2 separate regions of the Homo sapiens genome follow, and region 2 is linked to region 1. A link means that fine-mapping ties the variant in region 1 to the expression of a gene that starts in the linked region. Tissue or cell type: whole blood. Region 1 holds a variant in brackets; the other region holds the start of a gene. All regions are shown on one strand. Distances are from middle to middle.

Evidence for each region. PIP is the estimated chance that this variant, and not a neighbour inherited with it, causes the effect. A credible set is the group of variants that fine-mapping cannot tell apart.
Region 2: PGM3 starts here. The variant in region 1 is the best candidate, but not a certain one, in a credible set for the expression of PGM3 in whole blood (INTERVAL, PIP 0.54).

The regions. Positions count from the first base shown.
Region 1 is chr6:83,228,521-83,231,335 of GRCh38, reverse strand. It overlaps ME1 (malic enzyme 1), which reads left to right. Exons shown (of 14, transcript NM_002395.6): 10 at 2,405-2,510. Among named protein-coding and RNA genes, the nearest start is that of RWDD2A, 37 kb to the right of the region's middle. The variant C/A (reference allele first, on the strand shown) is at 1,195.
Region 2 is chr6:83,191,672-83,194,486 of GRCh38, reverse strand. It overlaps PGM3 (phosphoglucomutase 3), which reads left to right and starts at 1,222. Exons shown (of 13, transcript NM_015599.3): 1 at 1,222-1,308. It overlaps RWDD2A (RWD domain containing 2A), which reads right to left and starts at 1,130. Exons shown (of 3, transcript NM_033411.5): 1 at 1,044-1,130; 2 at 1-175. The coding sequence starts at 35. RefSeq lists silencers at 832-1,201, 1,502-1,571 and an enhancer at 760-1,259.

The DNA.
Region 1 (2,815 bases):
ATGGGTAATTTATGCTTCTTACTAGATGGAATGTCTTCTGGCTAAGTTCTGGCTTCAGTGTCTAGGAGCTGCCAGTGGGTATACTATGATTAATAAAGATGTTTATGATTAAGTATATATCTTTTTCTTTTCATACATTATTCATCTGTCTTTTTTATTATTTGTTTCCCATTCTAGGCAATTTAAATATTTTTCATTATATCTCAGCTTGACAGCCAAAAAAGCTGTGACTTCCAATTTATCTTATTCTATAGCTTTTCTTCTTTAGACTCATTATTGTATACTTTTTTGAAAACATAGCACATAACCTCTTAAAAACGCATGTGGTAGGGATATGATAGATCATTTAGTACACTGATTCTCAAAACTGGCTAATCATTTCTTTTTTTTATTTTTTATTTTTTTGAGACAGAGTCTCGCTGTCGCCCAGGCTGGAGTGCAGTGGTGTGATCTTGGCTTACTGCAAGCTCTGCCTCCTGGGTTTATGCCATTCTCCTGCCTCAGCCTCCTGAGTAGCTGGGACTACAGGCTCCTGCCACCACGCCCAGCTAATTTTTTGTATATTTTTAGTAGAGACGGGGTTTCACCGTGTTAACCAGGATGGTCTCGATCTCCTGACCTCGTGATCCGCCCGCCTCAGCCTCCCAAAGTGCTGGGATTACAGGCATGAGCCACTGCGCCTGGCCTACAGCAGATTATTAATAGGAGAAAATATACCAAAACTTTAAGTGCTGGAATTATGATTTTTTTCTTCTTCACAAAAATTTTAATTGCAACAACAACTAGCATAGAGCTCTTACTATAAACCAGGTACAGTCCTGAGTGTTTTACATGCATTACATTTCATTTACCCCACAAACAACCTGATGAGGTAGAAGTCCTTATTATCCTTATTTACAGATGAGGAGACAAGCACAAAGAGGTTCATATGTTTCAAATTTTTTAATAATTCAGTATATTGCTTTTAAAAACAGAGCCTGTCTCTACTAAAAATATAAAATTAGCCGGGCACATGCCTGTAATCCCAGCTACTTGGAAGGCTGAGGCAGGAGAATAGCTTTAACCCGGGAGGCGGAGGTTGCGGTGAGCCGAGATCGCGCCACTGCACTCCAGCCTGGGCAACATGAGCAAAAACTCTGTCTCAAAAAAAAAAGACAAACAAAACAAAATTAAAAACAACAACAACAACAACAA[C/A]AACAAAAAAAAACAGAGCCTGGCATGGTGGCTCACGCCTATAATCCTAGTGACTCAGGAGGCTGAAGCGAAAAGATCACTCCTGAGGCCAGAAGTTCGAGACAACCCTGGGCAATATAGCGAGACCCCCATCTCTAAAAAAAAATGATAAATTAGCCAAGCATGGTGGTGCATGCCTGTAGTTCCAGCTACTAGAGAGGCTTAGGTGGGAGGATCCCTTGACCCCAGGAGTTCAAGGCTGCAGTGACCTCTGATCCACAGCACTCCAACTTGCATGACAAAATGAGACCTCATTTCAAACAAACAAAAGCAACAGAAATAAAATGATAATACCCTTTAAAGAAAGAAAATTGTACTATCTTCATTATTAACAATTTGCAAAGACTATGACATACTATTTGTTAAGTTTTTGCCCGGGGTGATTCTGTGCTATATTGAAAAGGCTTTGAGTTCTAGTACAATCTCTTGCCTTGAGCAAGTCCCTTAAAACCTCTGAACATGTTTCCGCATATGTAAAATGACTATACTTATACTTGTCCTGCTTCTCAGAATTGTTGAGGGGATCAAATGAAATATGTGAAAACAACTTGTAAGTCATCAAGTACCATATAAAATTAGGCAGTGATCCATTATGTAGTCAAATCTTTAAAATTTGCAGCTAGAATATTATAATTAGATGTTTACTAGATAACACATGGCGCATTCATAATCAGAACATTAAAAACAAAAACATATAAAATGCATACTTACTGAGAAAATCTAACAATGACATAAATATGACTTCAAATTCTTTTCTTAGTCAGTAGCATAAATTGGTAGGGCTAAAGCTGAAGCCAACTCCAAATTCTGAGACCTGCTATAAAACACAATGTGTGACGAACAATATAATTATTTAAATTATATTTTGCATGGCCATTTGTTAATGCTAGTTCTCACATGTCTGTAAAATTAGGATTTTTAATATCAATTAAATGAAGGACTTTGTTTTGTTCACTGTTACATCTCCATTGCCTAGAACATTGACATATAAATATTTGTTAAACGAATGAATGAAATAACATTCTGACAATTGAAGAAGAGATTTTAAGAATAGCTGTAACACATCATACATAAAAATGTTAAGCATAAATATTTGTAATATATGTACCGAAATTTATTGACCCTCACATGTTTGGCAGATTCTTAATTTTTTCTTACTGGCTTTACTTAGGGACGTGCTTCCTTAACACAAGAGAAAGAGAAGTTTGCCCATGAACATGAAGAAATGAAGAACCTAGAAGCCATTGTTCAAGAAATAAAACCAACTGCCCTCATAGGTAAGCATTTTCTCCTCTCCCTTCTCCCCTACCCCTTATTTTGACCTGATTGTTTTTTTTACTACCAATTTTTGAGGTATAATTTAGCCTTTTTGAATTCAAAAAACTACACGTTCGCTCAAGCGACAGTACCCTGTAGAGACCTAGATTTTTAACTTTAGTCCTGTCGTCTTTCTCTTACTGATCTGAGATGAAGCGTATGGCCCCCTCCTCTAACTCAGCCTGTTAATACCTGGCACGTTCAGCACTTTTCTAGGCTTGATTACTCCAGATAGACAGTGGTTCTCAAATAAGAGGGATTTTTG
Region 2 (2,815 bases), 37 kb after region 1:
TGAAGCTGAAGGCTTTCTTTCACCGAAGCAGACATGTTGCCTCGCAATCAGCCTGCCTGGAAACCTCACAAGGCTCAGGGACGCTGGGTTTGTCAATGCCAGCCGGTATCCAGCGAAATTTCCCGAAGGTCCCTTTACGTGGAAGCAATTCTGCAGGAACGCTTTGCACCGAGAGCTAGGGGCACAAACCAGACACTTGCACTCTTCTTTATTTCCTGACTCCAAAATCTAGTATGCACAACATCCTCTAAAACACTCCGTAAAAACCCATATTCTGCGTACCCGGGCTCCGGGTTCCCGCCTCCCGCACCCCGCACTAGATAGGGGAATCTGCACTTTCAACAGGTGTTTGGAACTGTCCCGCTGCAGGTGGCAGGCAGACACCTGCAGACGCTCTGCAAGCCTGAATTCTGGGAAAGGCTGGGGCCCGGCTTCCAATCCCACCCGGGGCTCGGGCTTGGGCGGAGCCAGACGCTGCGGCGAGAGAGGCCGCAGTGCCAGCAGGATGGGCTCCGAGTTCCCCAGCGCCAGTCGCCACCCCTCGGTCCTGGACTCGCGGACCGCCCCCCCCCAACACCGCGGTGGCCTTTTCGCTTGGGCCGCATTCCAGGGCTCCGGACGTTTACGATTCACTGGCCTCTGCCCCGAGGGACCCAGGATAAGGGTAGGGGGTGTCTCAGAGGTCATTAAATAAAAGATGTTTACAGTGAGCTGGGGGAAGGGGGTACCCGGGGAGACGGCAGCCGGAGAAGGCTTCCCAGATTCAAAGGTTTGGGAGATGACCTCGACGTCGGAGAGGGGGATGCGGGCCGCCGGCGGCGCTCACTGTGGGCGAGGTCGCCCTGTCCGAGGCCCAGCGACGGGGCTGATTCCCCACCCCCGCCCCTAGCCAAGACCACTAGGAACCCCGGCTTCCCAGGAACGCAGGGCCTGCCGCCCCCAGAGGCCCGGATTTGGAGGCGGAGGCTGTGCCTCCGCGGCCGCAGTGCTCTGAGGGCCCGCGACCCTCGGCCCCAACCCCCGGGCCACCGCGGGGGCCTCACCCTTTCTGGTCACTCAATGGTAACAGCCCCAGACCCCGCTCGGAACCGCAGCCGCAGTTCCTCAGGCGCCAGCTGCGCGCGACCTGCGGCGAGGCGGGGGCGGGGCTGGCGGATAGTCCTCTGCCGTGATTGGCCAGGGGGCGTGGCGACGAGCCGGAAGCCACGCAGGGCCACGTCTGCGGTTCTGAGGACTGGGTTTGGGTGCAGACGTTGTTGCTTGGGCGCTTCTCCGCTGCGTGTAGGTGAAGGGGGCTTCCTGACCGAGGTAAGCCGGGCCCCGAGGCTCGGAGTTGAGAAGGGAGACTACCGGTCGGCAAGGGCTCGGTGGGAGCGGGACAGGTCAGATTCTCGGCCCGACGGAGGGGCTAGTGGTCTGGCGGGCGACTGACCGAGCGGCGGAGCGCGCGGGACACACCTACAGGCCCCTGCGCCCCGCGGGCGGGCTGGTCGGGACGGGCCGCGGGTCTCCTGCCGGGGCTCTGGTACGTGGACCTAGGCGGGGACCTCAGGGTGGAGTGCCGGGAATCACCCTTGTGCGGTGATTCGAGGGTAGGCGGGAGAGAGGCACCAAGGAGATTTGAAGATTGAATGGAGAGTAGGGGGATACTCTTAACTTTTTGCGTGGACGCTGGATTTGGCAAATATGCTTTCAATAAAGGCATTCGCAGAGGCATTGAAAGTAGTTGTAGGGCCTAAAACGCATGAAAGGATGAACTCATATTATCTGGACCTTTTTTTTTTTAATGGCTTTTTGGAGTTAACAGGACTGGTTTACACTCTTATGAATAATCATGACACATAACTGACTGCTCAGTTTTTACAAATATGTATTCATCCTTAGGAAAGAGATCTGATCACTGTCTTGAACTAAATTAGTTTACTGAATGCCAGCTTTTTCCAACTGGACAAAAGCAAGTATTTTTCACCATTTCTTGCAAGTTCTGTTCATTGAAGCAATGAAGGACAATAAAGAAAACAAAATTATGAGGCTAGCAGCTGGCGGACTGCTCCTCATCTCTGGGCTAATTGGGAATTAATTGACCCAGGAAATGTAGTATATGGACTACTGAAGGAAAACTACTGACTGAGGTTGGAAACCCCAAGTTCCACTTAATGGGAGTATCCCAGAGAAAACAGTATTAGTGGGCTAAGGGCCGATTTTTTGTTGTTGTTTGTTTTGAGACGGAGTCTCACCCTGTCGCCCAGCCTGGAGTGCAGTGGCGCGATCTCGGCTCACTGCGACCTCCACCCGCGGGTTCAAGCGATTCTCCTGCGTCAGCCTCCTGAGTAGCTGGGACTACAGGCGCGCACCACCACGCCAGGCTACTTTTTGTATTTTTAGTAGAGACAAGGGTCTCACCATGTTGGTCAGGCTGGTCTTGAATTCCTGACCTCGTGATCCGCCCGCCTTGGCCTCCCAAAATGCCGGGATTACAGGCCTGAGCCACCTCACCTGGCCTGTTTTTTTTTTTTTTTTTTTTTTTTGAGACCGAGTCTCCCTTTGTCACCCAGGCTGGAGTGCAGTGGCGCGATCTCGGCTCACTGCAACCTCTGCCTCCCGAGTAGCTGGGATTACAGGCGCCAGCTAACACGCCCGACTAATTTTTTTGTATTTTTAATAGAGAGGCGGTTTCGCCATGTTGGCCAGGCTGGTTTCAAACTCCTGACCTCAGGTGATCCGCCTGCCTTGGCCTCTCAAAGTGCTAAGATTACTGGCGTGAGCCACCGCTCCCGGCCGATGTTTTATTTTTAAAAGTAAAGGAAAAAGGTGG